7 linked regions of the Homo sapiens genome follow. The protein of the gene in region 2 purifies or fractionates together with the protein of the main gene of each other region. This does not show direct contact. Each region holds a gene or a part of one and is shown on either strand. Other genes may lie near its edges. The genes, in order: PTPN21, AJUBA, PPP2R3A, RPA2, P3H1, GAN and CREB3L2.

Evidence for each region.
Region 1: the proteins of AJUBA (region 2) and PTPN21 purify together in Homo sapiens (affinity purification with mass spectrometry; 2 studies listed by BioGRID and IntAct, with this or other methods). This does not show direct contact.
Region 3: the proteins of AJUBA (region 2) and PPP2R3A purify together in Homo sapiens (co-immunoprecipitation; 2 studies listed by BioGRID and IntAct, with this or other methods). This does not show direct contact.
Region 4: the proteins of AJUBA (region 2) and RPA2 purify together in Homo sapiens (affinity purification with western blotting; one study listed by BioGRID). This does not show direct contact.
Region 5: the proteins of AJUBA (region 2) and P3H1 purify together in Homo sapiens (affinity purification with mass spectrometry; one large-scale study listed by BioGRID and IntAct). This does not show direct contact.
Region 6: the proteins of AJUBA (region 2) and GAN purify together in Homo sapiens (affinity purification with mass spectrometry; one large-scale study listed by BioGRID and IntAct). This does not show direct contact.
Region 7: the proteins of AJUBA (region 2) and CREB3L2 purify together in Homo sapiens (co-immunoprecipitation; one large-scale study listed by IntAct). This does not show direct contact.

Annotation. Positions count from the first base shown.
Region 1 is NC_000014.9:88,544,317-88,548,814, forward strand, and holds part of PTPN21 (tyrosine-protein phosphatase non-receptor type 21), read right to left. Parts: intron 1-4,498.
Region 2 is NC_000014.9:22,972,006-22,976,503, forward strand, and holds part of AJUBA (LIM domain-containing protein ajuba), read right to left. Parts: coding exon 4,451-4,498; intron 3,100-4,450; coding exon 2,969-3,099; intron 2,886-2,968; coding exon 2,834-2,885; intron 2,111-2,833; coding exon 2,042-2,110; intron 1,564-2,041; coding exon 1,438-1,563; 3' UTR 1-1,437.
Region 3 is NC_000003.12:135,968,257-135,972,754, reverse strand, and holds part of PPP2R3A (serine/threonine-protein phosphatase 2A regulatory subunit B'' subunit alpha), read right to left. Parts: intron 1-4,498. UniProt on the Homo sapiens protein: The B regulatory subunit might modulate substrate selectivity and catalytic activity, and might also direct the localization of the catalytic enzyme to a particular subcellular compartment.
Region 4 is NC_000001.11:27,894,050-27,898,323, forward strand, and holds part of RPA2 (replication protein A 32 kDa subunit), read right to left. Parts: intron 3,659-4,274; coding exon 3,584-3,658; intron 3,073-3,583; coding exon 2,956-3,072; intron 349-2,955; coding exon 241-348; intron 58-240; coding exon 1-57. UniProt on the Homo sapiens protein: As part of the heterotrimeric replication protein A complex (RPA/RP-A), binds and stabilizes single-stranded DNA intermediates that form during DNA replication or upon DNA stress.
Region 5 is NC_000001.11:42,749,431-42,753,928, forward strand, and holds part of P3H1 (prolyl 3-hydroxylase 1 isoform 1 precursor), read right to left. Parts: intron 3,235-4,498; coding exon 3,107-3,234; intron 2,940-3,106; coding exon 2,844-2,939; intron 907-2,843; coding exon 756-906; intron 1-755. UniProt on the Homo sapiens protein: Basement membrane-associated chondroitin sulfate proteoglycan (CSPG). Has prolyl 3-hydroxylase activity catalyzing the post-translational formation of 3-hydroxyproline in -Xaa-Pro-Gly- sequences in collagens, especially types IV and V.
Region 6 is NC_000016.10:81,359,242-81,363,739, reverse strand, and holds part of GAN (gigaxonin), read right to left. Parts: intron 1,242-4,498; coding exon 1,129-1,241; intron 1-1,128. UniProt on the Homo sapiens protein: Probable cytoskeletal component that directly or indirectly plays an important role in neurofilament architecture.
Region 7 is NC_000007.14:137,874,025-137,877,826, reverse strand, and holds the end of CREB3L2 (cyclic AMP-responsive element-binding protein 3-like protein 2), read left to right. Parts: 3' UTR 1-2,848; downstream 2,849-3,802. UniProt on the Homo sapiens protein: Transcription factor involved in unfolded protein response (UPR).

The sequences.
Region 1 (4,498 bases), about 66 Mb from region 2:
GCCTGGGCAACAGAGCAAGACTCCATCTCACCAAAAAAAAAGAAAAGAAAAGAATTCCTATGAAGAGAATTTGGTCAGTTACTACAACAGGGGATAGGAGTCACTAATAACAATAACATAACATCAACAAAAATGGTAATAAAGAAGAACACTTATTGAGAGTTTCCCAAATACCAGGTCCTTTGCTAAATGTTTTACATTTAACACCGAATCCTCATAACCACTATCAAGTAGGTACTATTATTATCCCCAACTTACAAATGAAAAATCAATGAACTTGGGAAATTAAGTGATTTAATAATTACTTAAATGACAGCACTTGGATGCAACCTAGGTGTTTCTGAATACTGCAGACTGTCTTAACCACTTTACTAAGCAGCCATCTCAAGAGGCAGACAGGCACTGAAGCACCACTGAAGCACCGCGCAGAGGAAAAGGTGCCCTGACTCAAAGGAATTTGTCTGGTCCTGGAGGCAGCAATTCTCTGCTTATAAAAATATGTACTTTTTCTTTTCTTTTCTTTTTTTTTGAGACAGAGTCTCACTCTGTCGCCCAGGCTGGAGTACAGTGGCGCAGTCTCGGCTCATTGCAACCTCTGTCTCTCGGATTCAAGTGATTCTCCTGTCTCAGCCTCCCAAGTAGTTGGGACTACAGGCATACACCATCACGCATGGGTAATTTTTTTGTATTTTTAGTAGAGATGGGGTTTCACCATGTTGGCCAGGCCAGGCTGGTCTTGAACTCCTGACCTCAGGTGATCTGCCCACCTCGGCCTCCCAAAGTGCTGGGATTACACGCGTGAGCCACCGCGCCTGGCCGACTTATGAAAATATCTACTTTTTCAAGGTAACATTCTTCTGATTCCATGTTCACCAAGAAACTTCTGGTTTGTTCTGGTTCCCATGTGCCCTAACTATAGGAAAATCTTGGCCTAGGCAGAGGGCACACATACCTGGGACCCTTGGCAGTTCCTTACTGCTTATAAATTACTAAACTTGGGTCCTGGTTTTACACATCATTTTTAGCGAGCTAGATTAAATCAGGTCTTCCCATGACATGAGATTTTTGAGCCTGACTCTTGCACTCTGGATTGTGCTGATTCCGTCAAGGTGATGCCCCAGGCAGTGCCCATGCCCAGGTGGCCACTTGTGTCACCACCTCCTTCAAGCCTCTACAGCATATGCTTTTAAAATTGGAGAAAATTTTCTAGCTCCCCTTAAATTCCACAAGGACTCACAGCCTCTCTTGAAAAAATGTTTTGAAACTCAGAAGAATGATAGGCAGGGAATTTCAACAGCTTTGAGAAACTACTGCTATAACGAACAGCAATATTTTCCTAAGGGAATAATTCATTTTCCCATTTTTAAAAGTTACTTTGGCTCACGCCTGTAATCCCAGCACTTTGGGAGACCGAGGCAGACGGATCATGAGGTCAGGAGATCGAGACCATCCTGGCTAACACGGTGAAACCCCATCTCTACTAAAAATACAAAATTAGCCGGGCGTGGTGGCATGCGCCTATAGTCCCAGTTACTTGGGAGGCTGAGACAGAAGAATGGCATGAACCTGGGAGACTGAGACAGGAGAATGGCATGAACCTGGGAGACGGAGGTTGCAGTGAGCCGAGATCGCGCCACTGCACTCCAGCCTGGGCGATAGAGCGAGACTCTGTCTCAAATAAAAAAAAAAAAAAAAAAAAAGAAGTTACTTTCTGTAGTTCAAATATGGTGAATTTAAAAGAAAGTTAGCAACCTAAGTTAACTACATTGGATACATGTATATTAACCACGTTGCTTTTAATTTAATACAAAATATCTTAGACACTTGTAAAAATATGACAGCTAAAAATACAAACAAAAAAAATACCCATATACCCAGTGTAAGAAACACTACTGATATAGCTGAAACCCCTGGGTATAGTGTTATACTATTGTGCGGCCCTTGTAACTGTCATTATAGGCCCGGGCACGTTGGCTCACTCCTGTAATCCCAGCACTTTGGGAGGCCAAGGTGGACAGATCACCTGAGGTCAGGAGTTCAAGACCAGCCTGGCCAACATGATAAAACCCCATCTCTACTTAAAAAAAAAAAAAATACAAAAATACAAAAATTAGCCGGGCATGGTGGTAGGCACCTGTAATCCCAGCTACTGGGGAGGCTAAGGCAGGAGAATCGCTTGGACCCGGGAGGCAGAGGTTGCAGTGAACCGAGATCGCGCCATTGTACTCCAGCCTGGGCAAAAGAGTGAAACTCCATCTCAAAAAAAAAAAAAAAAAAAATTGTCATTATAGAAGTGAAATGGTATTCAATTAAGCAAGAGGGACTTTTCCCTCCATTTATATTTGGACAGTAGCAAAGTTTTCCACCCAAATCTATATGCGATAATTCCAGATTTGCTTGGTGGGAGAACAGTGCAAGAAACCAACATACTGATATTTCTTGGTATGAATCACACAGAGACTATATGTACAAACTAGAAACAGGTGTGACCCCACTCAGATTATTTCTGAACAGTCATTTGTTAAGATTAGGCCTGATGCCTGAGCCATCTGTTTATATGCTACAGAGCAGAGCTTCTGGGGCTTTCAAAGAAAAAGTTTGCTATACAAACTTTCTACCCATGACTGTTACATTTATGTTGGAAATTGTGGGACAGACTCTCCACAGGCAAAACATTTTCTAGGGACCATGCCTGTTTCCTCTTCTGTTAAAAATCAGGCTCAAAATATACCCACAGCTATATAAAGTTACTTGTTCCCTGAGACTGATAACTTCTAACAAGGGATGGCAATTTCTCTGGACTTATTAACAGAAGGAAGGCAATGCCTGTGGGTTCAGTTCTCCCTGTATTTACTGAACACATTCCACACCTGGTATAAAAATAAATAAACCACAGTTCCTCAAGAAGCTGACTCTCTAGGCGTTATAGACAGACCTGGTGCACGAGGAAGAAAATTACAGGAAGAAGAAACCATAATAGGAAAAAAAAAAAAAAAGTCGAAGCAACCAAAGTAAATAAATAAATAAATAAATAGAATATAAGCCACTAAGCCAGGCAAGGTGGCACACGCCTGTAATCCCACCTACTCACAAAGTTGAGGCAGGAAGATAACTAGAGGAAACAACTCCCAGACCAGCCTGGGCGACATAGCAAGACTCCATCTCAAAAACACAAGTTAAAAAAAAAATTAGCTGGGTGTGGTGGAGTGTACCTGTAGTCCCAGCTCTTGGCAGGCTAAGGCAAAAGGATCACTTGAGCCTAGGTGTTTGAGGATGCATTGAGCTATGACGGTGCCACTGTACTCCAGCCTGGGTGATGGAGTGAGACCTCATCCCTAAAAAAGAATAAATGCAAGTAAGCAGGGACTGGTTACTGAGGCCTGCTGTTCTGGTTTTCTTTCTTCTTCTTCGGCAGTTTCATCTCAGTTTCCTTCCAACACTTTCCCCTCCTCTAATCTACCATGAGGGGTCTGCGATGTCCTCTTTTTCTCCCCTGGAGAGCCTCATACCATCTTCTGGCTTTAATGAACTCACTTAGGCTGATACTTCCCAATATCTTCCCTCTAACCTGGATCTCATGCCTGAACTCCAGATCAGCAGATCCATCTGTCTATTCAAAACCTCCAACTGGCACCTCAAACTCAGTATTTCTAAAACTGAACTCACCACACGCTCCTCCTTGCCCCTAATAGATCTGCACTTCCTTTCACATTTCCTCTCTGTTATAGCCCCACCATCTACTGAAAACCTGAATATCAACCAGGACCCATGCTAACCCTTCTCTATTACTCGGTAGGTCCTGATCCAGATTCCAACCACCTCTCTCCAACCCTATCCAACTCCAGGTGGCTACCATCTGTACCTGAACCACTCCCCTCAAATCATTCTCCAAAGGGCTCACTCTTCACAGAAACAATCGTACCACACCTGTTTACACCCTTCATTAACTTCCCCACTACCCTCAGGATAAATCTAAATCCTTTAACAAAAAATCCTCATTGTGTGGCCCTTACAGTCGGCCTTTCCTCCACGCACTTCAGGCTTCAGGCAGACCAGCTTCCTCTGCGTCTTTGGTCCTGTGCAGTTCTCTTTGTTGGAACTCCTCCAGCCCTTGATAGGACTCCCTTGCCCCATCCTCAGGTCACAGCTCAGAATCAAATTCCCTGAGCAGCCTTCCCTTTGCTGCACCTCCCTCTGGCCTATAGCACACCCTCTACTTCCCTTATCACAGCATGCATCATGCCTGTTTTCTTACTGGCAACAACACTAGGGTGAGCTTCCAAGTATGTATGTGCTTGGCACTTACGCATCTTCAGTACTGAGTGATCATATAAGTGATTGGATGGTCACCAGGAGCAAAGTTCATCTATTCCTGACTTTTTAGGTGGAATAACCAGTTTCTCTAACTTTCCCTTACCCAAGAACCAGGTAGCCAAAGGTAGGGAGGGTCCTAGGTTTAATTAGAGACCTTTCTTCACAGGCCTTGCATAACATTTTA
Region 2 (4,498 bases):
TTGAAATATCCAAAGCATGACAAAAAAGAATAGGACACCTAAATGGATATAAACACACCAAAATAGGAATTGAGCTTTTGGCAAATTAGTCATTAAGTCATTAACTTTAAGCAAACAAGTTTTCAGTAAATTGGTTTTAAGAGATCTAGCTTTAGGTGAACTAGTTTCAAGCAAACTGACTAGTATCAAATCAGTGTTTTGCTCCCTCCAGTTCCCCCCAACTCTAGTTTTGGGATTGTGATGGATGCAATCCGGGACCCCTCTGAGAGGTGGCAAGTGAGCTTCTACTAGGAAACCAAGTGTACAAGTGACCTGAGAAGAGAGTAAGAAAGAGTGAGAGAGAGACAGAGAGACAAGAGAGAGAGTGTGTGTGTGCATGAACACACCCACACATGCATACACTGGGCTATATGGCTCAGTGCACCTAAACTTGGGAATGTGGCTAAGCTGAAGCTTCCTAGACATCCCCCCAACAAGCTCCACACCCACAGAGATCTGCTCATTACCTCCCCCAGCCAAGGAGAAGAGCAACCACGTACAATCACCTACCTAGCCTCCCCAGACCCATGTAAGTTCCTGAGAAACAGGGAATACAGGCAGCAACCCCACTCAGAGCTGGTCCCCATTCTCAGACAGATAAGGAGCTCTCCTAGTCCTTAGAAGAAGGCCAAGAAATAACTCATTAATGAGGTCCAGAGTTTCTACCTCTTCATCCAGATATAGGTGCGGGACCCCATATCTGACACCATGTGTCACAAAAAGTGAGGAGCTTAAATTTGGTTGCCTAGCAGGAACTCACCACCCTAGACTTGCTACCTCTCAGGGACATCCCACACTGCATCAACCACAACCCCAAAACTCTGGGGTTTGGGGGAGCTGGAGGGAGAATTACACTTTGATTTGGTTCTAGTCAGTTTAGCTGAAACTAATTGATTTAAAGCTAGGTCCTCTACTCCTGGAATCCAGGACCAGAACATTGCGTGACTCATGCATAATCATACACTAGGCCAGACACAGTGGCTTACGCCTATAATCCCAGCACTTTGGGAGGCCAAGGTGGGAGGATCATTCGAGCCCAGGAGTTCAAGACTAGCCTGGGCAACATGGTGAGATCCCATCTCTAAAACAAACAAAATATATATACTGAAGATACAGAATCAGATGTTCAGAAAGTCCTGGAACCCTCCTGTGTGTGCCTAAGCTCAGACTGCACACATGGGAAAAAGGCCAGTCGCCCCCACCCTGGTAAATATAAGGTTTCTCTTCCACAATCCATTTGGAATATCATGATCTTTGGGTCTCCGGCCCTTGGGGTCCTCCCCAGAGGACTCTTCTGCCAGGCCTGCAGAGTGCATTCTTTGCCTTGGCTGGCCTCAGAGGGGCCCACTGGCCACAGCAGTTTGTCTGCAGGGTGACAGCAGCAGCAGTGATTGCAGCTCAGATATAGTTGGCAGGGGGTTGTCGGGCATTGAGCCGCTGCATGTGGCAACCATGGCAGAGCAAGTGCCCATCCAGAGGGAAACAGCAGCAGCCTTCCTCATCACTCAGCTGCATCCGGCAGTCCTAGGGAAGAAGGCACCTAGTTCACCTCAGCCTAGGCACCTTGGACACTGAGGGTATCTTAGGAGTCTGCCCTGCTCAACACCTGACTCCTAATAACTGGAAGAAAGGGATGGGGTGGGAAGGGAAGGATGGAAGGGATGGAAGAGCAATCTGAGAAAATACTAATACCTCAGCTGGACACCAGGTGTCACTGCTGCAGCAGAAATAATGACACAAGCCTGTCTTTCAAGAAGTTTGACCAGAGTCCCTAGTCTTAGAAAGTCCTGACTCTGGGAGAGTCAGATTCAGAAAGGACTAAGCTACTTGGACCAGAGAGAGTGGCTGGAGGACAAAAAAGAGACTGAAGATAGGTCACAATATCTTTCTGGTTTCCCATGCCCTACACCTCTCCCATAGATGTCTGGTTGTTGCAGGACTTGACTCCTCCCCTCTCCCCATTTCCACTTCTTCTCCAGCACCGCTGAACCCCAACACTCACCTCACAGTGGTAGCACTCAAAGTGATAATCCCGGTCCATGGATATCACCCTCACGATGTCCTCACAGCCCTGAAACATGCAGACCCCCATGGAGATGAGAGCAGCATGTTGCCTCACCTCCACCTTTCCCTCATATACAACCCTTCCCACCCCATGGGAAGATCATACAAATGCCCCCAGAGTCTCTCTGCAATCACCTGTAGTTTTAAGATGCTTCTGCAAATCCTACCAGAACTCTCATCTCCTTCACTGGGCTGCACCCATGGAGCACACTCCCTCTGTACAACAGCCCTGGCCTTACCTGCGTCTCTCAGTTGTGCAGGAAGCAAAGGGAAGGGAAGGGGACAGGAGGCCTAAATAAAGTAGGCTAGGCTGGGAACAAGGGGATCCAATAAGATCTGGTCCTCACTGGCTTTTGGTTTCTCTCCATAGGCACATCCCCTACACTCAGCTTAAATCATTTCTGACCCCTTCCTACCAGTGCTGAGGATTCTTCCCACCTTTTTCCAGCCCCTACATCTGCAGTCTGGTGACCTCGACCTCAAAGAAAGTCTCCTCCTCTGGACTGGGATAGAAGAGATGGAGCCTGGGCCCAGTTAGGCTTTCAGACATGTCCAGGCCCGGATATTAGGGTCAGGGTGGTGACCCCAAGAGGCAGAGTCACACGGGAATCTTCACAGAGTACATTCCTTGGCACTACCACTTCTGGCAGGAGGCCAGGCAGCATGTCCCTATCCCCTCCCCAAAGGCAGTGGCACTGGCTGCCCTGAAGGAGAACCCAGACATACTGACCTCAGAGGGGAGGATGGGTTGGCCACAGGCTGCACACTTAGGAGCATAATTTCTGAAAGAGAGAGGGAAGAGATGAGCTGAGGCTGGGGAATCCCTGGACCCAGTTCCACACTGCATCCCAAGGGGCAGACTCACTTGTGGTAGTCGGTGACACAGTATACTTGGTTGGAGAAGTCCACTGTGAAGGGGATGCCATCCAGGCACTTGTTGCAAACAATGCATCGGAAACAGCCTGGATGATAGGACTTCCCCATTGCTTGTAGGATCTGGCTCATGGGGTAGCAAGAGAATCAGTCTCCCTCCAGTCCCAGCTCTCCAGCTGCCCATTATGCTCCTTATTACTCCCATTAACCTCATCCAACCCGCTGCTATACTCCCAGAACAATGCTATGTAATGTCGGTGAAGAAGTCGTAAAATGGAGGCGGAGACCCTGAAAAGTGCCTGAGAGAGCATTCAGGCCAGCAGTGTTTCACTCTGGCTGCATATCAGGATCACCTAGGCAGCTTTTAAAAAACATCAATGCTTTGGCCCTCCTCCAGGCCTATTATCACAATCTGTGGTGATGGGATCCAAACACTGTTTTTTGTTTTGTTTTGTTTTTTAGTTCTTCCCAGCTGATCTGCTAGGCTACCATGATTGAGAATCACTGATTTAATCCTATCTTTTGTTTTTACAGAAAAGAAAACTGAGTCCCAAGTGATTCTAACCAGTAGCAGAAAGGGGATTAAGACTCAGGACTGGCCGGGCGCGGCGGCTTACGCCTGTAATCCCAGCACTTTGGGAGGCCGAGGTGGGCGGATCACAAGGTCAGGAGATCGAGACCATACTGGCTAACACAGTGAAACCCCGTCTCTACTAAAAACACACCAAAAAATTAGCCGGGCATGTGGCGGGCGCCTGTAGTCCCAGCTAGGCAGGAGAATGGCGTGAACCAGGAGGCGGAGCTTGCAGTAAGCCGAGATCGCACCACTGGACTCCAGCCTGGGCAACAGAGTGAGACTCCATCTCAAAAAAAAAAAAAAGAAGACGACTCAGGACCCCAGGCTGGGCATGGTGGCTCACGCCTATAATCTAGCACTTTGGGAGGCTGAGGCAGGAGGATCACTTGAGGCCAGGAATTCGAGACCAGCCTGGCCAACATGGCAAAACCTTTTATCTACTAAACATACAAAAATTAGCCAGGCATGGTGGCGCATGCCTGTAGTCCTAGCTACTTGGGAGGCTGAGGCACTAGAATCACTTGAACCTGGGAGGCGGAGGTTGCAGTGAGCCGAGATCATTCCACTTTGTCAGAGCGAGACTCTGTCTCAAAAAAAAAAAAAAAAAAAAGACTCAGGACCCCACACTCCTAGCTCAGGCTGGAAGGCCTGGCTGTGCCTGCAGAGTTAGGGAGGGGCTAGGTCATAGAAGCCTGGGTTGACAGGCTTTTGAGCCCAGACTTGATCCCATAGGCAGAGGGAAGCCACTGTAAACAGTTGCTCTGGGGAGGAATGGGATGAAAGTGATTCATCTGGTGACAGGCTTCTTTCCCCAACCTTCTCTCAATATCCATTTAGTCCCTGATCCCGCTCCTCAGCCTCACAGTGAGACTTCTCAGCTGAAAGCACTTTACTTACCTTCTCCAAAATCAAGTGACCACAGACACAGCATTTCTCAGCTGCCTC
Region 3 (4,498 bases), on a different chromosome or scaffold from region 2:
CCAAAGATACACAAATGGCCAACACATGAAAAGATGCTCAACGTCAGTAGTCATTAGGGAAATACAAATAAAAATCACAATGAGGCACCACTTCACACCCACTAGGATGGCTATAACCAGAAAACAAAAGTGCTGGCGAGGAGGTGGAGAAACTAGAATTCTCAAAAATTGCTGGAAAAAATGTAAAAGTGTGCAGCATCTGTGGAAAACAGTCTGGGAGTTCCTCAAAAACTTTTTAAACATAGAATTATTTCATAATCCAGCAATTCTATTCCTAGATACATGCACAAAAGAATTGAAAACAGGTATTTAAACAAAAACTTGTAGAAGAATGCTCTTAGCAATACTATTTATAAGAGCCAAAAGGTGTAAACAATCTAAATGTCAACTGATAAACAAAACGTAGTATATCCATACAATGGAGTATTATTCAGCCAAAGAAAGAATGAAGTACTGATACATGCTACAACCTGAGTGAACCTCGTATACATTGTGCTGAATGAAAGAAGCCAGGCACAAAAGGTTACATATTGTATGATTCCATTTATATGAAATCTTCAGAACAGGCAAATCCATATAGACAGAAAGCAAATTGGCGGGTGCCAGACGGTAGGGGTAAAGGGGAATGGCGAGTGACTGCTTAATGGGTACAGGGTTTCCTTTTGGGGTGATGAAAATGTTCCAGAATTAGCGGTGATGGCTGCACAACATTGTGAATGTACATACTGAAGTAACTGATTTGTACACTTTAAAATGGTTAATTTTACCTCAATTAAAAAAAATCACACAGTTCACCCTTGACAAATCCAGGAACTATACTCAGGAACTGACTCCAAGTCCTCTCCCCACTCAGCTATCCTGTTTCCTCCACAAACCAAAGGAGCTCTGGACCACCTTGGTAATGGACTTTTGCCTCTATATACTGCCAGCCAGGCATAGTACCTAACCATATTTGTGATGATGGAATTCCCACAGCTGTCCAAGCATACACAAGTTTCTAAATAAGATATTTTCTTATAATGGACTCACATTACAAACCATCTTGGACCAAGGTCTGCTTTCATGTCACAAAGTCATCCTTTATACAGAAGTTAACCATCATCCACCTAACTGATAAACCAATGACAGCTATGAAGTCTGGTCCCTCACAAGATGATATTCCTGTTTTCAAGAGTATAGCAATGAGGTTTATGCCTTCAATTAATCAAAACCATTCTTAACCAATAATTCTTGGCATTTTCCACCCCTTATATTTTCTGTTCTGTTGGCAGGCTACAACTCTTAGAAATATGAAGCACAAAATTGACCTTAAAAGCCTCTCTGCTAGGTTAAGGTTGCCAATGTGGCAGAAATGGATAAAAGACAAACTGGTTGTGACCATTTGCATTACAACCCATCCTAAATAGTCACTCTAACACCAAGTCTTCGAGGTAGAAGCCTTCACACAACTTTTTGGAAACCAGTTTGCTCAGTGCTTTCTTCTTTCTGAGCTCAATGAGGGCCTACATCTCCAACTTACATCCATATCCCTCAGGTACCATCAATGATAAATACTTCAAAGTATGAGAGTTTTTACATGCATGCAACTGGAAAATTAAGCTATAATATCAAGTTAATTGGAAAAAATACAGCTGCAAAAACTATTCCTGGGAATCTCACAGTTAGATACACATTCCCTAACATAGCCAAGTATTCCATTTTCAGCATACCAACAATATAGTCTTTGTTCATCAGCTCAATGGGAGGATGATGTCAGGGTCACTGGAGCCCAGATCACCACTGGCCTTTAGGAGCTCTACAGCTTTCCAGTTGAGAAAGAAACTTGTGGCCTAATCACCAACATCTGAGTCAGCCCCTTCAACAGTCCTGGCAAAATTTCTTCTCAGTAAAAAGTAGTCTCCAAAACAAGACCCCTAAGAACGTGGGAGAGGGGTAATCAGACACCATTGACCTACATCCCTAAAAAGTTAGGAGAAATGTTTGAGTAACCAACAGACTAACACCTACATTGTAGGCATGTAAGACACCTCATCCTCCCTCACCACTTCCTCTTTTTGGGCAAGCTTCTCAAAGGAATTTCCAACACTTGCCACTCCCATTTCCTTACTTTTTACCCACTTCATTTTGGTTTCTGCCTCTTCCAATCTAAAATGGTTCTTGCTGAGGTCAAAGACTCCATCTTGCTAAATTCAACAGATCATTTTTGTTCCACATCTTTACTTGATGACACCTCTCTATTTGAAACATTCTTCTCTCACCTTTTATGATGCATCTTAAACTAGAATTAGATTGTGAAGGAAACAGCTAAGACAAAAACCAAATATTGTTTAAATTACTCTTGAAAATCCTTTAAATGGCCCGTTAAATATCGCACACCTGTATACAAGTAAATAAAACTTTTCTCTCTCTCATTTAATAAAAAACATGGTAGAGCGCATTCAGTTAAGTTTGCACACTTTAATTCTGAGCAAGGCGTCATTCCACTGTACCTCTGTGGCCACTTCTCATTCTCTTCCTGGGCTATCCTCCTCTACTAAACTTCAAAATGCTGGGCCTGAGCCCTTTTTTCTTAATCTCTGTCAGTGGTTCTCAACTTCCACAGCTAAGTGGAATCACCTCAGATTCGTCCAAGGCAGCAAATCAGATCAAGTAAACAGAAAAAGAAATTTCTTAGGTGGACCACAGCATTAGCATTTTTTAATCATTCAGTGATTCCAATGTGCAACCAAGATGAGAACACTGTTCTATGCTCTCTTCCCAGACCAGGGATCACATGCTCAAAAGCCTACAGTCAGAGAAATAAATGAGCAAAGTGGGCCAGGCATAATTTTAGGGAGTGGTGGGCTCTGTAGTGAAATAGAAGAGCTGCGATCATCTGTGACTTAGCTCCAATTATTGCTGCCATATTGGAAAACCAACTCAGTAGTGCTACATTTTCTCATTTTTAAAGAGAAACCCCAAATCTGGATTTTTCATGAGAAATCTTCAGATTTTAAAATATTGGCAACTAATTCAAAATTAAACAATAACAAAACCACTGTATGGGCAAAACATCTGTGAGTCAGATTCAGCTGTAGGCTACTGCTTTGCAACCACTGCCCTAGATAATTTCATCCACAGCCTTTAATTTACACCTAAAAATTCGTGCCTCCAGTTTAGCCCTCTGCTCTTGGCTCTGAATTAGAATTGTCAAATGCTTATGTGACCTCTCACTTGAAAATCTCAGCAGTCCCAATGTAAACTGTGATTTAAACTCATCTCAAAACTATTTATCCTTAAATGTTCTTTACTTCAGGTAACACCACCACCATTCACTGGTTGGGCAAGCTAGAACCCTGGGAGTCATCTTAGGATCTCATTTCTCCCTCTCAACCCTTGTACCATATCAACCACCAAATCCTATCAATTACGCCTCCTAAATATATCTCATGAATATATGTACTTCTCTCCATCTCCAATACGACCATTCTTTTCTCTCAGCCACCACCTTTTCTCTCCTATGTTATCCACAGTAACCTTAATTAGGGGCAGCTGTCTCCCACACTCAATCTTGTTTCCTTCCAAAGCATTCTAATATGACCAGAATATTTTATAATCACAAATAATTACAAATATATACACATATACACGCATTACATAAATATATACTTATGTAAATATATGTGTTTGTGTGTTTATTTCACCCAACAATTCCATTTCTAGGAATTTACCCTATAAATATATTTATTCACATATGAAACAGCATATTCGTAGCACTGTTTACGGTAAATTACTGGAAACAATCTAAATGTCTGTCAGTGGGGGAATGGTTAAATAATCTATGGTATATCCATACAGTGAAATACTGTACAGTCATTCAAAAAAATAAGGAAACTATATACTGAAGTGGAAAGATTCCCAAGACATTTTTAAGAAAACAGAGTGTACAGTATGCTACCATTTGTGTAAAACAGTAAGAGGAAAGATATGCATTTCCTTGAATGCCCACAAAAAATGTCTACAATGATATACAAAACTAGTATCAGTGGTTATTCCTTTGGAAGACAGGGAAAATGGTAGCTGGGGGAGGGAGCAGAACCCACCAAAAATGCTCTGATTTGCTTGGAGGAGGGCCCAGGCGTCGGTCTTAAGTTCTGGTGGTTCTGATGAGAGTGTTGGACTGAGAACCACTGCTTAGTGGACAGCCTTTGCCTATTTTCCTAGCTTCATTTTGTGTCATCACTCTCCGTGTTCCTGGCTTCTGGGTTCCCAAAAGCGGCCCTGTTCCTTTCTTCCTCAAGGTATTCACATCTGTTCCTTCTGCCCGGAATATTGTTCCCGTGAGCTTCACCTAGTAACTCCTGTTAATCCTTCACCGTCCACCTCAAAGGTCACTTCCCCATGGAAACTTTCCCCAGTTTCCAAACTACATCAGGACATCTGTTTTATGCACTCAGAGCTGCCTGTACTTCTCCCAGAAATTAACACAATCGTAATGAGATAAATGTATATTTATGCA
Region 4 (4,274 bases), on a different chromosome or scaffold from region 2:
GAGATCCTGAAAGTTCAACCCTTCAGGTCTTGGACAAGCCTTAATCAAATTCAACACCTGAAGATTCAAATCAGAAAGATTTTAGCAATTATTTTGGATCAGCCTCCCCTTTGCAAACCTGAGTCCCTTTATAGAAAAGAAATGAACCAGGTACTTAAACAGTCGTAGCTCATTAAGGAAGTAACAAAATTTAAGACTATCTGTGTTTTGTATTTCTGAAGCCACTCTGGTGGAGGTTACCTGGTTTTGGGCCACAGTGAGGCCATTTGCTGGCATGAAGCTATTCCCACCAAAGTTCCCTGCTTCACTCATTCCTGGATTGCTGATAGGTGCTCTCCCTGCTGAGGGCTGAATTAAGAAATAAGTTAGCAATATTAGAAAATCCATCAAGTTAAACAGTCTTTACTACTTAAAATAGCTCGTTAAGCAGCTTACAAAAAACAATTTATAAACAGTTTCCCAGTTTATAACACTGCTTACATTGGAGTGGACAGCTATTATCTAATGAGTATTTCACAGGAAGATAAAGTAACTCCCCGAAGCACATAAATATCAAAAAGAGAAAGATACTCTTGGCTCCTTTTGTTTGTGATGTCAGACGAACCAGAGAAGAGTAGCAGCAAGAAGAAAATTACCCAGAGTCTGCTATTTTGGTATCCATGGAGCCCAATCATTCAAGCATTCACTGAGTGTCAATAGGCATGAAGCACCACAGGCAGAGAAAAGGAGACACAGTCCCTATCGTCCTCTCTTTCTTTCTTTTTTTTTAACCACCAAATTCTTAAAATGCTCTGCAATCACTATTTTCATTTCCTTTCTCCCCAGTCACTCCTCAGCCCACCATATTTGGGTTGTCCCCCAGTACACCTCTGAAACTGTTTTCACCAAAGTCACCAAAGACTTTTCAACCAATTATCCAAAAGTCTCTTTCAGTCCTCCTAATACTTGACCTCTCGGAAGCAGACACTGCTGACCACACTCCTCTTGAAATGTATTCCTCCCTGGGCTTCTTGACACCACATTCTTCTGGTTCTCCATCTGCCTCTCAAACTGAACCTTCTCAGTATCCCTCATTAGCCTCTTCTATCTGTCTCCCAAAAAGCTGACAGTGTCCCCAGGATCTCATCCCAGACCGCCTCCTAGGCCACAAATCCTCATTGCCAGCCGGACTGCTAACCGGATGCCAACATGGTGAAACCCCGCCTGTATTAAAAATACAAAAATTAGCTGGGTATGGTGGTGCGTACCTGTAATCCCAGATACTGGCGAGGCTGAGGCAGGAGAATTGCTTGAACCCGAGAGGCGGAGGCTGCAGTGAGCCGAGATCACGCCATTGCACTCCAGCCTGAGTGACAGAGTGAGACACTGTCTCGAAAAAAAGGGCCAAGCGTGGTGGCTCATGCCTGTAATCCCAGCACTTTGAAAGGAGGCTGAGACGGGCAGATCACGAGGTCAGGAGATCGAGATCATCCTGGCTAACACGGTGAAACCCCTTCTCTACTAAAAATACAAAAAATTAGCCGGGTGTGGTGGCAGCCGGGTGTGGTGGTGGGCGCCTGTGGTCCCAGCTACTCGGGAGGCTGAGGCAGGAGAATGGCGTGAACCCGGGAGGCGGAGCTTGCAGTGAGCCGAGATCGCACCACTGCACTCCAGCCTGGGCGAAAGAGCGAGACTCTGTCTCAAAAAAAACAAAAACAAAAACAAAAAACCCAAATAAACAAAATTTTAAAAATTTGAGTAAAGGTAATCCTTACCATGGCCTCCAAAGCCCCATATAATCTGGGCCCTGCCTCCTTGCCTACAACCCTCTCCCTCTCCCCTGTCATTCACTTCACTCCAGACACTGGCCTTGCTGGTTTCAGAGATGTCATGCTTACTCCACACTCCTGGCTCTTGCACATCCTAGTCCCTCTGGTTTAGAATGTTCCTCATCTAAAATTGTACCATTCTTGTTCCCTCCATCAGCCTCTTCTCCTGTTTTATTTACTTCAGAGCACCTATATAACTACCTAAAATTATACATATATTTTTGTTTATTACTTGTTTCTCCCAAGAATGTAAGTATATAGTGTTCACTGCTATACTCGAATGCCGACTAGAATGATTGGGACTATCAAATCAAAGTAGGCGCAATAAATATTTTTCTTTTTCTTTATTTTTTTTTGAGACAAGGTTGCTCTGTTGCCCAGGCTGCAGTGAGTGGCACGATCACAGCTCAATGCAGCCTTGACCTCCTGGGCTTAAGTGATCTCCCAACCTCAGCCTTCCAAGTAGCCCATCTAATTCTTTAATTTTTTTTGTAGAGACAGGGTCTCCCTATGTTGCCCAGCGTGGTGTCTTGAACTGGGCTCAAGTGATGCCCCCACACCAGCCTCCCAAAGTGCTGAGATTTCAGGCCATGAACCACCACACCTTGCCCTGAGGGCTTTCTAATACTACAGTCAACTCTAGTTTTGCATGGTCCTAGATGGACTTGTCAAAGTGAATTCACACAATGGAAAATACTAGGGAGAAATTTCAATATGAACCAAGAAATATAATTTCAGGGAAAAAATAATAATACATAATTTTTCCTACTTAGCCAGTAAGTTGGAAGGAAGACAGCAAAATGCTGTCCTGAAGGGGACTACTCTCTGAGTATGCACTGACAATCCTGGAGCTAAGAGCTATATAAGAGCTAAGAGCCTATAATTACATGTCTACACCTGAGGGTTGTCACAGGCCTCAGCTGTCCAGGCCAGTGGAGTCAGAGGAACTCCTAATTCTGAGAGAAACATGAGTGTTTCATCTGGAATAAAATACAATGACAAAGCTAATGGAGAAAGTGTTCTGAGGACTTAGTGATGTCTTTCTCTGGCTCGGCCTTCAAAATATCAAGGAAATCAAAGCTGGAACACAAAAGTAGCCTGTGTTCTTCCAGGGAAGAGAAAAAGCTAGGAAAGCGAGACTACTCACCTGGCTGTTGGCTTTGCTTAGTACCATGTGTGCATTGATCACTTCCAGAATATGTGTGGTGAACTCATTCATATCCTCCAGGGGCATGATCTTAAAGGCTACCAGGCTCTTTTTGTTCTATTAAAATGAAGGAAAAAAATGTGAATAAAATATGAACATACATTAATTTCAGGTCAACACTGTGGCTCTTTCCTTGGTTATAATATTAATATTTCACCAATATGAGAAAAATGTTATATACTCTCAGAGGTATTCCAAATATGGTCAAACATGAGGAGAAAAAAAACTAAAACTAATAGCTAAGGGACATTAATAATTTTCCCAAGATTGCATAACCAAGCAAAATCTAGACTCCTGACTCCGAATCTAGTGTTCTCCTTTCTCCAACTAATGAACGCCACAGATAGCAATTGTAGAAGGAGATTCTGTTCTTTCTTTACCATTCTGTTAATTTCATGTTAAGGTTAAAAAAAAAAAAAAGAAAAGTTATTTCCTTTTGAAGAGAGTAAGAAATAACTTCCCATTAAACAGGGAGACTTAAGTATTTTAACTATCCAAAAGCCATGACATGAATCTAGAAACTGCTTCATGCAAAAACACTTTAACTGTTATTTTATTCTGACTTTACCTGAAAAGATCTCAGGTGGCCTGCCACTTTCACATATGTTTCTGGAGGAACCACAGTGTTTTCACTGCTGGTGTCCTAACATAAAATACAAACATGTCATTAAAGTTTTAGTGATGCTGGTAAAAGCCTCTTTAACGTTTCTATATTATGTATAGAAAGAGAAAGTTACGAAGTAGAAGAGTTAAAGGATCCTAAAATGGCATTAAGTAGTTTGCCCTGCCTTTTACAACTTATTTTGTAAAACCAGGAATTAGAATAAAAATATCTCTAAAGGTAATTATCAGTTCCAAAGTTCTGTAGCACATCATAAAAAAGCAAACAATTGTGACACTCTCGTTCAAGCTCTTAGGCACACAATTTTCTTTTTTCTTTTTTTGAGAGGGAGTCTCGCTCTGTCACCCAGGCTGGAGTGCAGTGGCACGATCTTGGCTCGCTGCAACCTCCGCCTCCCAAGGGAGGGTTTGAGTAATTCTCCTGCCTCAACTTCCCCAGTAGCTGGGATTACAGGCGCCCGCCACCACGCCCGGCAGGCACACAATTTTCTGGTGGATATACTTATTGGCAAAGCAATTCTACTTTTAGGAATTTAAGGAAGTAATTAAGAACATGCATTAAGATTTAGATTTATCATAGTATAGAATATTAAAAATTTTAAAACAACCTAAATATCCAACATAAAGTACACATTTCT
Region 5 (4,498 bases), on a different chromosome or scaffold from region 2:
CTTGGACATGCAAAAGGGAATGTGGGTGGGCGAGGGAATGAGGAATAACCTCCAGGCCACTCTCACTTGTAAATCACGAAGCTCTCTCACAAATTTGGTATTTAACAATTAGTAAAAGAGAATCTGCCACATAGCTATGGTTGAGCTAAAGGATAAAAATTCCCTTGAATGTAGCTCTCCAGGATTTGGCACCTTTCTTAGTTCCCCTGACTACCAGGCTGCACAATGCCTCCACTCCTGTGCAAACACCATCCCACCACCCGGAGTACTCCGTAATCGTATTCATCCTGCAAAACTGCCATTGCTTCCTCTGGGAAGCCTTCTTTTTGTTGTTGTTGTTGTTGTTATTATTTTTGCTTTTAACAAGCCCTTCTGTTGAGGGCTGTCTTTCAACAGATGGCAGCGAGGGAGCTGCTCAGCTATGTATGAAACCCTAACCCGGAGGCAGGTCCTCTATGAATGGTTTAGCACCAGCTTCCCCATTAAAGTGCGTTGTGTGACAAGTGACGGGTGGCCCCCTTTCTGGCTGCACCCCATTTCCCTCTGGGAAGCCTTCTTGATCCCCAGGTAGGTTGACTATAACTTCCTCCATGCTACTGTGGCATGCATCACACTGGGATGCCACCCATGTATTTACATTGGTTCCCCAACTGAAGAAAAGGGACCGCATCCTGTTCTCTCTGTGTCTTCAGCATCCAGCACAGAGCTGAGGTACAGCATGCGGGGGCGGGTGCTGCAGGGGTAATGAGGCCCACCTTCGATGGCAGTGCGGCACACCAGATGAGAGTAGGAAAAGTAGAGGGGCGTATCCAGGCGGAAGTAGGACTCCATGATGCGCCGCACCTTCTCCGTCACGTTGTAGTACAGGTGGGCACTCTGCAGAGGAACTTTGCCTTCTTGCCCCAGCTGCCAAGGAGACAGATGGTCAGCTGCCCTCAACGACTGATATGGTTTGGCTCTGTGTCCCTACCCAAATCTTATCTTGTAGTTCCCATAATTCCCATGTGTTGTGGAAGGGACCTGGTGGGAGATGACTGAATAATGGGGGTGGATCTTTCCCGTGCTGTTCTCATAATACTGAATAAGTCTCACGAGATCTGGTGGCTTTAAAAAAATGGGAGTTTGCGTCCGGGAGGTGAGGGGCGCCTCTGCCCGGCCGCCCCTACTGGGAAGTGAGGAGCCCCTCAGCCCGGCCAGCCACCCCGTCCGGGAGGGAGGCCGGGGGGGGTGGTCGGCCAGCCGCCCCGTCCGGGAGGGAGGTGGGGGGGTCAGCCCCCCGCCCGGCCGGCCGCCCTGTCCGGGAGGTGAGGGGCGCCTCTGCCCGGCCGCCCCTACTGGGAAGTGAGGACCCCTCTGCCCGGCCAGCCGCCCCGTCCGGGAGGGAGGTGGGGGGGTCAGCCCCCTGCCCGGCCAGCCGCCCTATCCAGGAGGTGAGGGGCGCCTCTGCCCGGCTGCCCCTACTGGGAAGTGAGGAGCCCCTCTGCCTGGCCAGCCGCCCCGTCCGGGAGGGTGGTGGGGGGGTCAGCCCCCCGCCCGGCCAGCCGCCCCATCCGGGAGGTGAGGGGCGCTTCTGCCCGGCCGCCCCTACTGGGAAGTGAGGAGCCCCTCTGCCCAGCCACGACCCCGTCTGGGAGGTGTGCCCAGCGGCTCATTGGGGATGGGCCATGATGACGATGGCGGTTTTGTGGAATAGAAAGGCGGGAAGGGTGGGGAAAAAATTGAGAAATCGGATGGTTGCGGGGTCTGTGTGGATAGAAGTAGACATGGGAGACTTTTCATTTTGTTCTGTACTAAGAAAAATTCTTCTGCCTTGGGATCCTGTTGATCTGTGACCTTATCCCCAACCCTGTGCTCTCTGAAACATGTGCTGTGTCCACTCAGGGTTAAATGGATTAAGGGCGGTGCAAGATGTGCTTTGTTAAACAGATGCTTGAAGGCAGCATGCTCGTTAAGAGTCATCACCACTCCCTAATCTTAAGTACCCAGGGACACAAACACTGCGGAAGGCCGCAGGGTCCTCTGCCTAGGAAAACCAGAGACCTTTGTTCACTTGTTTATCTGCTGACCTTCCCTCCACTATTGTCCTGTGACCCTGCCAAATCCCCCTCTGCGAGAAACACCCAAGAATGATCAATAAAAAAAAAATAAATAAATAAATAAATAAATAAATAAAATAATAAAAAATAAAAAATAAAAAAATGGGAGTTTGCCTGCAGAAGTTCTCTCTTTGCCTGCTGCCATCCATGTAAGATGTGACTTGCTCCTCTTTGCCTTCCACCATGATTGTGAGGCTTCCCCAGCCACATGGAACTGTAAGTCCAAGTAAACCTCTTTCTTTTGTAAATTGCCCAGTCTCGGGTACGTCTTTATCAGCAGTGTGAAAACGGACTAACACAACGCCCCTCTTTAGGGGCCAGAGACAATGAGTACCAGGCCCATCCCACGTCCCCACACCCCCACTGAAGCTGCAGCCTCTGCTGCCCACGCCCAATACCCCTACTATATTCCTCTTCCTCCTGTCCTTCTTATCTCTCTTTATGAGCACACTGTGCATCCTGCACAGAAGCACAGCCCTCTAGAATCAGCCTTTCTAAAGAAAGCATTCTCATAGCTTTGGCGAACAGTCTTATCCTGCTCACTTTGTTTTGATTACACTCGGTCTAACAGGATTCAAAAGTGAACCTCACGCAACATAACTCATCCTCGCTTCCTGGCAACAAGAATGTTGGCAGGTGGACCCTCTTCACCTTTCCTGCCACCAGCCCCAACTCTTCCTCAAAGCCTGAGCTTCCCCCTTCCCCACCCCTTTCTCCACACTCTAGAATGCCCAGTGTTGATCTTACCTTGAGGGCTTTGAAGACAGTGACACCATAGAACTTTTCATTGGGAGTATGTGGGGAGGTCTGACCCCGGTAGCCATCTCCTGAGGTTGCTGCCACCTACAAGGCCCAAAACACAAGGTGATGTTAGCCAGGGCAGCTGAGGGCTTGAGAAGAGGTGGTCAACTGTGGCCAGGAAGAGGAAGGCGAAGGCTACCACCCAAGGGGCACTTGGTGGGGGGATGCTGGACCCTTGGGGGAAGGTGCAGTCACTGGGCTTCCCTTACATTGGTCAGTCTCTGCAGCTCCTGACACTCGTGGTCAGAGATTACGCCGTCCATCACCACCCGCTGGGAACCATTCAGGAGTTTGGAGTTCATGGTGAGACTGATGCCTTCATACAGCAGGGGGCCACCTGCAAAGCAATGACAAAACTCTAGCTAAATCTAGCAGCAGCTAGACCAAAGACTCTCCATTGGATATTGCCTCCTCGTCACAAATAGAAATTCCAGCTGTTTCCTTTTCACCAGCAAAATCTCCCGCTAGGTCATTTTCAAAGGTAGAATAGTCCAGAGGACAGAACATAGAGCTGAAAGATGAGATTCCCAGTCCCAGCTCCATGACCAAATAGCTGCTGGCTTTTGGGCCATGACACACTCTTGAGGAAACATCAGAAACACAATCCTAAAACATGAGCTCGGGAACGAGGAAGAACTGACTTTGACTCCTAGATCCTCCATTGATTAGCTGTGTGACCTTGGCAAGTTACTTAACCTCCCTGAGGTTAATTTTAATTAATTAAAATGTTCTCATCTGTCAAACAGCATCTACCTTATATGTTTGATGCCAGTATAATGTTAAGAACAAGGAAGGCAAGTTAAAAGCTTAGTACAATATTTGGCATATGGTAAGTCCTCAAAAGTTTGGCTACCATGGTATCATCATCATTATTCATTTAAAATAAGGATCTTGCAATCTGCATGACTCACCTCTCAGTTATAAGAATCAAGAGAAATAACAAAGTGAAAGTGGTCTGAAAACAAAGGAATGCTGGACAAATTCTTTTCATACGCTAATCTTGTTTAATTAACCACTGTTAATTTAAGCAACTATAGGGCAAAGGTCAACATTTCTCTCTTACAGTTCTCATGGTGTTTCTCTGTGCTAGGGACATACTAATACTAGAGACTCAGTTCAACTCCACTTGATAACTGAGGCCTCAGTGTGTACCAGGAACTGTGCCAGATAGGGTGAGAGATGAATCCTAGAAGACAGTACCTGTTCTCTAACAATTATGCAAATAACTAGCATAAGACAGACCATAAATGCCCTAAGAAGTTCAAAAGAAAGGAGGGGACTCCAATCATCTGGGAGGTTAAGAAAGGCTTTACGGCAGGGCACAGTGGCTTATGCCTATAATCTCAGCACTTTGGGAGGCCAGGGCGGGTGGATCACAAGGTCAGGAGTTTGAGACCAGCCTGGCCAACATGGTGAAACCCTATCTCTACTAAAAATACAAAAAAATTAGCCAGGCATGGTGCCACATGCCTGTAATCCCAGCTACTTGGGAGGCTGAGGCAGGAGAATTCCTTGATGATCCCGGGATGTGGAGGTTGCAGTGAGCCAAGATTGCACCACTGCACTCCAGCCTGGGCAACAGAGCAAGACTCCATCTCCAA
Region 6 (4,498 bases), on a different chromosome or scaffold from region 2:
CTGATATTCATACACTTAATAAAAATTAGAGAAACATAAAGATGGCAAAAATAGACAATGGGGACTCCTAGAGCAAGGAGACAGGGAGAGGAGCAAGGGCTGAAACACTAACTATTGGGTACGACGCTTGGTACCTGGGAGACTGGATTAATCTTACTGCAAACCTCAGCATTATGCAATATACACACATAACAAACCTGCACATGTATCCCCGAGTCTAAAATAAAAGTTGAAACTATTTTTAAAAATTAGAGAAATCTTTTTTCCCAGTGTTCCAGCATGGAAGTACCACGTTCAAAACCATTTCTCCGGTAATGCTTCTTAAAGATTTCTGGCTTCCCTAACAGCCCACTCTTCCAGCACAACAGCCAGAGAGGCCAAAGCCACTTCTCAAAACAAACTTAAGAAATACATGGTGAGTTCATCAGAAAATCCTCACTTTTTAACCCATAATAGCTCACAACAAGAAAATGAACTGTTACCTCTGGTTCAATACAATTATTTTTGCATAACAAAGGGCAGTGTTTTCAAGTTGACGTGGGAAAGGCTAGTATAAACTATGGCAGAAAGGGCTGTGGAGGACAGGGTCAGGCCAAGGCTATTTGGGATCATAGAAGCCCTAGGTGTTTCATGTCCGTTTGTCAATGAATATTTATGTAGTAAACCCTACGTGCCAAGCACGATTCTAGTGCTGAAAATGAAATACTGACCAGAACACATGTAATTCTCTGCCATCAAAGAGCTTATGTGAAAAACTTTAAATGCCTGGTCCGTGAGATGGTGAGACGTCGTACGAAGACGGGGACAGGAAAGCTAAGAGGCAGGAGGGAGGCCCGCTGAGAAGGTGCTGCGAGGAGGGGGCAGGCCACGCTGGCATCTGCACAGGGCAGGATAAATGTGAAGGCTGGGGTGAGGGCATTCCTGGAAGATTTCAGAAACTCATGGAGGCCAGAAGGAGTGAGGGCCAGGAAGGGGAGGAGAGCCGGGCACTAGAAGGAGAGGTTGGAGCGAATGAGGCAGGTGGCTTGACAAGGCTGCCGTTTCTTCCCTGAACTCAGACACAAAACAAACAGAAGCGCTAAGGGGAAAGAGAAACACATCAAACAAACCAACCAACTAGTGTTTTACCTCGTTCATAGGTGGCAATGCTGTCCATGTATTTGCATCTGGATCATACTTTTCTCCTGAGCTAAGAGTCTGCTTATTTTCATCTTGGCCCCCGAATACAAACAAAAATCCTTCTGCAAAGATCAAAGGAAACACAAATATGAAATGTGAGTCTTCAACACCCATAAACGCCACAGCATATATAGAAACAGCATCTGAAGAAACTCTCTGATGACAACAATGTTCTCTTTGGATTCAGGGCTTTTATCACATCCCATTGGATCCTTGGTGATGGAGCCAAACCATCACTTTGACCATTTTGCTTTACTCATTACTGTCTTTGAGGGGATTTCCACCACCCTACAATGAAAAAGGAAGCCTGGCGTCACCCGCTCAGTCACCAGGCAACTCTGGGCCATCTCAATTCATCTCTTCTGTTCCCTCTCAGCCTCTGGGATTCTCATACAACTTTTGCACCGCAGCGCACATCTGTTCATTCTAGACCCCAGGAATACCCAGATCTGAGGCATCCGTGTGCACTTTCTATTCAAAACAGGATCTAAGAGCAACTGAACTTCCGATTTCATGTAATGGCGTATTAGGTTATTCTTCTGCAAAAAACAATTTGCTGGATAAAACATTTAAAAAATAATCTTAGCCGGGTGGTGGTGGCTCAGCACTTTTGGAAGCCAAGCTACAAGGACTGCTTGAGCCCAGGAGGTTCATAGGAGGCAACACAGCAAGACTTCATCTCTACAAAAAATAATGAAATTAGCCGGGCATTGTGGTATTTGTCTATAGTCTCAACTACTCAGGAGGCTGAAATGGGAGGATCGCTTGAGCCCAGGAGTGTGAAGCTGAAGTGGGCTGTGATCATGCCATTGTACTCCAGCCTGGGCAACGAAGTGAGATCTTGTTTCAAAAATAACAACAATAATAATCTTCTTAGAAGAGGAGAAGCCAACAAGATAACAAGGCAAAACTGAAGGGAAAATTAGGACCTACAGAGGTTATCAAGCATGAAAACCATTTTACACTGAGGGCATTTCTAATCTAGGAAAATTTAAACCTTTTGTCCTGGGGATGAAAAAGACAGAAGTTTAAGCTCCAGGTCCACAGAAAACGTGGCTTCTGGCAGGAGATCCTCTCCAAAGTTCTACACTGTCAGGATGAAGGCCAACCAGAATTCGTACTCAGATTTAAATCTCCTTGCTATCTGGGAAATCATGAGCCTTGAACTTAACTTACAGTTAATACCAAATTAGTAGTGTTTTCAGTCAACTGGCAGAAACAAATGCAAAACTTCTGTAGAAGGACCTTAATCTAAGCCTTAGATTCTAACATCCCAGGACATCTAAGGCAGAAAGTTATTGCTACAAATAATTTTTTTTTGATTTTTTTTGTTTTTTAAAGACAGTCTTGCTCTGTCGCCCAGGCTGGAGGGCAGTGGTGCAATCACAGATCACTGCAACTTCTGCCTCCTGGGTTCAAGCGATTCTCCTGCATCGCCCTCCTGAATATCTGGGATTACAGGCACATGCCACCACATACCCAGCTACTTTTTGTACTTTTAGTAGAGATGGGGTTTCACCATGTTGGCCAGTTGATTTCAAACTCCTGACCTCAAATGATCCACCCGCCTCAGCCTCCAAAAGTGCTGGGATTATAGGTGTGAGCCACTGCGCCCGGCTGCTACAAATAATGTTTAATAAATGAGCAGCATGCAGCCACAGATATCAGACATACCAAAAATTAGACTCTAAGAAAAGACCAGCAGAAGCAGATCATAGGAAGTAGTCTTGCAAAGATTTCAAATATTATAGTAACCAGAAAGATGATTTTTTTCAAGTTGGGTGATGAAGAATAAAGTCTAAAATTTATTTAAAAAACAAAGATAATTTAAACAAATGCTTATCATGTTTAAAAAATAAAAATTAACTGGAAGATAACTCCAGGTAACAGGGAACTATAGAAATAAGAGAGGATTTGAAGGTAATGGTGGATTAAGTTATTCTCCTGTAAAAAGACAAGAATTTGTAGAAATTAAAAAAAAAAAATCAATGGATAAATGTAATAGCAGATTAATCAGAGTTAAGGAGAAAAGAAGATAAATCAAAAGATAATAATCAAGAAAACAGCACAGTGAGACAAAAAGATGGAAAATAATAAGAAAATTTTAAATACACACCAGAGAAGAGATTTTTTAGACTTGCCACTGACTTCACAACAATGGAAGGCAGAAGTCAGTGGAATGACTTCAATGTGCTGAAAAATGATAAATACCAAAGCTGAAATGCTATACTCAGCAAAAATATCCTTTACGAATGAAGACAAAATAATGACATTTGCAGGCAATCAAATCTGAGAGTTGTCCACCAAAAGACCCATATTAAAGGAAATTCAAAAGGATGAACTTCAGAGAGAAGGGAGATGATCCTAGGTGGAAAGTCTGAGGAGTTAAGAAGGAAGAACGAAGAAAGTGGCAAATCTAAATGAACACTATCTACCTACCTACCTGCCTGTCTATCAATCATCTATCTACCTATCTGTCTGTCCATCCATCTATCCATCCATCCATCCATCCATCCATCCATCCATCCATCCATCCATCCATCCAACATATATCAAAAAAAGACATATTGTGTATATAGTAGCTACCCCTTATCTGAAGTTTTGGTTTCTGTGGTTTTATCACCCATGGTCAACTGCAGTCCGAAAATAGGTGAGTTCAGTAAAGTAAGATATTTTGAGAGAGACCACATTCACATAACTATTACAGTATATTGTTATCGTCGTTTTATTATCAGTTATTGTCGTTAATCTTTTACTGTGCTGAACTTAAACTTTATCATGGGTATGGATGTATAGTAAAAACACACAGTATGTACAGGGTTCAGCACTATCTGTGGTCTCAGACAACCACTCGGGGGTCTTGGAATGCATCCCTCATTGATAAGGGGGATCTACTGTACATATTTATTAGTGATAATGCATTTTAAAACTGTAAGAGTATGGAAAATGGAAAATGAAGAAAAACTCTCCTGAAGAGAACACAGGTACTGACTAACTTTGGACTTTGCTAACTTAATACAGGCTGTAATTTCTAAGGTAATCTTCCTAAAGGACTATTAACAAGAATGTAAGTCCCAAACTGGTAGAGAAGAAAAATTGAATGACAAAAAAACAGTCAAAATCAATTTTTAAAAAGGCAAAAAAAAAAAAAAAAACAATGCAGCCTGGACAAACGGAAGGACCTCCTCAATCACTCACTTCTGTTTCCATCAATTCCACTGTACACAGTCGCTCCTTCCATTGCTGGGTTTCTGAAACACCAATCCCTCTAGCAAACTTTCAAATATTAGTCATATAGGAGCCTTTGTGACAGACGTGT
Region 7 (3,802 bases), on a different chromosome or scaffold from region 2:
TAAGACCAGAATATCAGTGGATTTGTTTTCCCCACCAAGTGGCCTCTTAGACTAGTCATTAACTTATGATTAGCTCTAAAGATTTCAAATAGTGGCAGACAGTGTCTTCTGAATGTAAGTTTTGAGAAATACGAGTCTGTCAGAGCGGCCATAAGCCATAAAGAGTCAATCTCTTAATTATATTTTTCATCATGTAAACAAGTTTCCCATTTCCCTTTCTTAGATTGCACCAGTGAAGGAGATGTTTTGCAAAGATTCAGAGAACTAATTTTTCACTGGATAAGACCTGAGTAACCCAGACCCCCCACCGTGGTTCTTTTCACAGCCCTCGACTTTGCACTTAAAAAGGGATATTGTAAATGAAAGGCTGCAGTGCCAGTTTTAAGAAAGAATTTCTGTGAAGTGTGAGGACTCTGGAGTCTAGCTCACATAAAGAGAGTGTTATATAAAAATCCGACAGCTGAACTAGGTTGCTCTTTTTTGGCAGGGAGTGGGGATGAGATTTGACACCAATATGGGCAAAATTAGATAACCTTTTGGTTAATATAAATGATTTTGATTTGGAGGCCTAATTTGTAGATTGTGAAAGCAGCTTTTAGTTTAACTTATTCACAGACCCCTTATAATTACCATGTTTTTTTTTTTCTTCCTAAATCTCTTGGTTCAGCTTGTGAATCTTACGTGCCCGTAAAGTTGGGATGTTGAATTGGCTCTTCTTTGTTCTGGCAGTGAGTCAAGTGTCCAGCATTTTTTCATAAGTGTTTTTTAAAATTGTTCTCCAGCATTTTATGGCTCCTCCCTCCCATGTCCTCAGACCCAGCAAAAGCGTAGAGGCAGAATTAGAGGCCTCTCCAGGCCAGCTCCTCTGCCCACATGTCATACAAGGTGTGAATTTGAGCACAGTCCAGAAATGGAGACATCCCACCCCCAGTTGAATAATGGCCCATTCATGCCAACCTTGCCAACACGGAGAGGGCAGAGATGCACTAGAAGACCTTCATCCTCCCCTTCCTCTGCCCCAAGTCACTACAGTTGGTTCTATTGAAGCCAGTCTTTAAGAAACCTGGGTTAAAGACACCAGCACTTCTGCTTGCTGGGCTGGCTGGACCTGTGAAGCCATGGGCAGGTAGTGCCCTCTTGAGAGTCATTTTATTTGGCCACCTTCAGGTGAGACTATCCATAGACACATGCTAGGATAGGCCCCGCTGGGAGGGCAGTTACAGGAGAGAGTAGGTGGTGGTGACGTGAGGGCTGTGAAGGATCCAGAGACAAGACTTAGATGTTTCGTTCATTCACTCACTCATTCAGTTACTCCTAAGACTTTTCAGTTTCATAAGGAAGAGTGTTGCCTGAGGCCCTAGGGAATATTGGGGAATAGAAGGGATTGAGGAAACATTAATAATAGTTATTCAAAAGACCCAAATGCTTATACTTCTCTCTCCCTTCTTCTCTCTCTGACACACACACACACACACACACACACACACACACACACGTGCACATTCCTCCCTTACATGCTCATTTGTGCCTTAAATGTGCCTTATAGGTAAATCCAGGATGACTGAGGAATCCCTCGTCACTGGGAGATTTTGTATATATTCTTTTATTATTAGATTGAGTTGGGTGTGGGGAAAAATTTTTTTCTGAAGGCTCAAAAGTGGTTTCCTAAAAGTGAGCCACTATCAGATTTGCACATCAGGAGAAAAGAAATAGGGTTACGTCCATTAGGAAAATCCCAGTTTGCAGGAGTGCAATCACATCAAAAAAACAACCAGCCAGGATTAAAGGTATTATAAATCCTCATAGCGGAACATTTCTCAGGGCAAAGGAACCTGGCTCATTTGAAGATTAATGTTCCATGCCTTTGTGGTCAAAGGGTCAGCACTTAACACAGGAAAAAACTAGGTGTTGTTTTGTTTTGTTATTTTGGACAACATAAAATTCAGGAATGTTTTATTTAGCCTTGGTTTCTAGAAGGAAGGGAAATAATATTTCTTGAGCATTTACTAGGGTGTTGCGTGCTGTGCTAAGTAAATTTTAAGTCTTTCAGTTTTATAGATACGGAAAACAAGGGTGACTCTTTACCACAGGATGAATAAAGAACTAAGTAATATGGGAAATGCAGCAATTTCTGGACTAGCTGAGCCGATTCCTTCCTGTGAGCACACTGTAAGCTTTCAAGTTCTCTGGGCAGGAATTACAGCACCTGTCCCCTGCAATGGCCCTGCTGTGTGATGCTCATCGCTTCCCTTCGTGCTGGAGCAGTCCCCCAGGTGTCCATCTCCTATCTTTTTGTTCCAATCTTCTGTGAGTTCCAGCTAGCAGGCTTTACATCTGGGGAAAGGAAAACCAGGGGTTTTAGCTCTGTTCTCTGCTCCCATCCTTCGCTCACCAGCTGAGTGAGAACATGAACTTTTTGCACCATGTACCCATGGCTTACACTACTTAGAAAATCACCTTTTCAGATAAAACAGTTTATGAGTTCATAGAGAACACCAGCACTCTTTGACAAAACTGTGAGTGACCCTTTTTAAACAATGCTGAGCAGGCCCTGAGCTATAATCAACGGTGAGCTTTAATGTCTATGCTGACAGTTAGGTTTTGCTCTCTTTTGTAACAGGTTACGTAGACCAGCAGTGTTTAAATCTAAATACGTTGTGAGTCTGTTATCTGTCCTATCGCGTTTTTTAAATGACTTTTTATTCTTTATCATAGCTAAGTAAATACCAAAAAAAAAAAAAAGCTTTGTAGGACACTTGTACTTAGTTTGGGAAAAAAAAATAAATTGAAATTGTTATGCTTTTGTATTTCCATTTCTTGCAAATAAATATTTTTTCTTAAATAGTAAGATGTTGCCCAGTCTTTATAATCTTGGTACTAATTTGAAAAGCATGTTGTTTTTTTATGAACATGGGTTTGTGTATGTGTGCCGAACCGTTCTTTCCTGGATATCTACTTGGCCTGAAAGAAGAGCCTCAAACCAGCAATTGGTATGTTATATAGGACTGAATCCAAGCCTTAGTTGGAGGAATATTGAGAATGTAATTGTTTTTTCAGGCAGCCACGGGAAGAAAAACAGTATCCTCTAGAGACTTATGCAGCATGACTGTTATTTTTATTGTCTCCTCTAACTATTCCCTAACTAGATTTCAACTGTCTGTGGATTTGATTTTGCTTTCCCCATCTCTGGTTGCTTGAGAAAGATCCTTTGGACTTGAGCCAGAAAGGAATGATCCTTCTTCCTACGAACAGTTGCAGAGGATGTCTAACAGATTCATGCTCCAGAAATTCTGATGAAATGGTTGATAAAGGTCAGTGCACTCAAGCAGAGTAATCTTCGTTCCATTACAATGTCTGAATCCAAATGTAGCTTTCTTCACTCAGAGAGTGGGGGCTTCGTTTAGTCTCAGACTGACTTGGGATGTGAGAGACTAAGGCCAGGGACTGTGCTTACTTGGAAAAAAAAAACAAAACATGGGATTTTTTTGTTTGTTTGTTTTGTGTTTTTTTTTCCTTAGCAGCATGCTCAACCCTGCCCTGGCCTTGAGGGTACATTAATCTGCTCTATCTTGTCCTCTTCAGAGCACCTTGACCTTTTGTTGTTACACAAGGGGGCCTTTCCCTTCAGAGGCTTTCATTATCATGCCCCACTCTTTCTTTTGTGGGGAGCCTATTTCTGAAGCTCCTCCACCCCCCAATATGCTGATATCTTTTCAGTGGTGTGTGGAGAGGGCAAATACTCACTGATTTGAGAATGTTCTGTATTAATCATGCCTTTCCATTTTCTGAATTCCTAATGCTT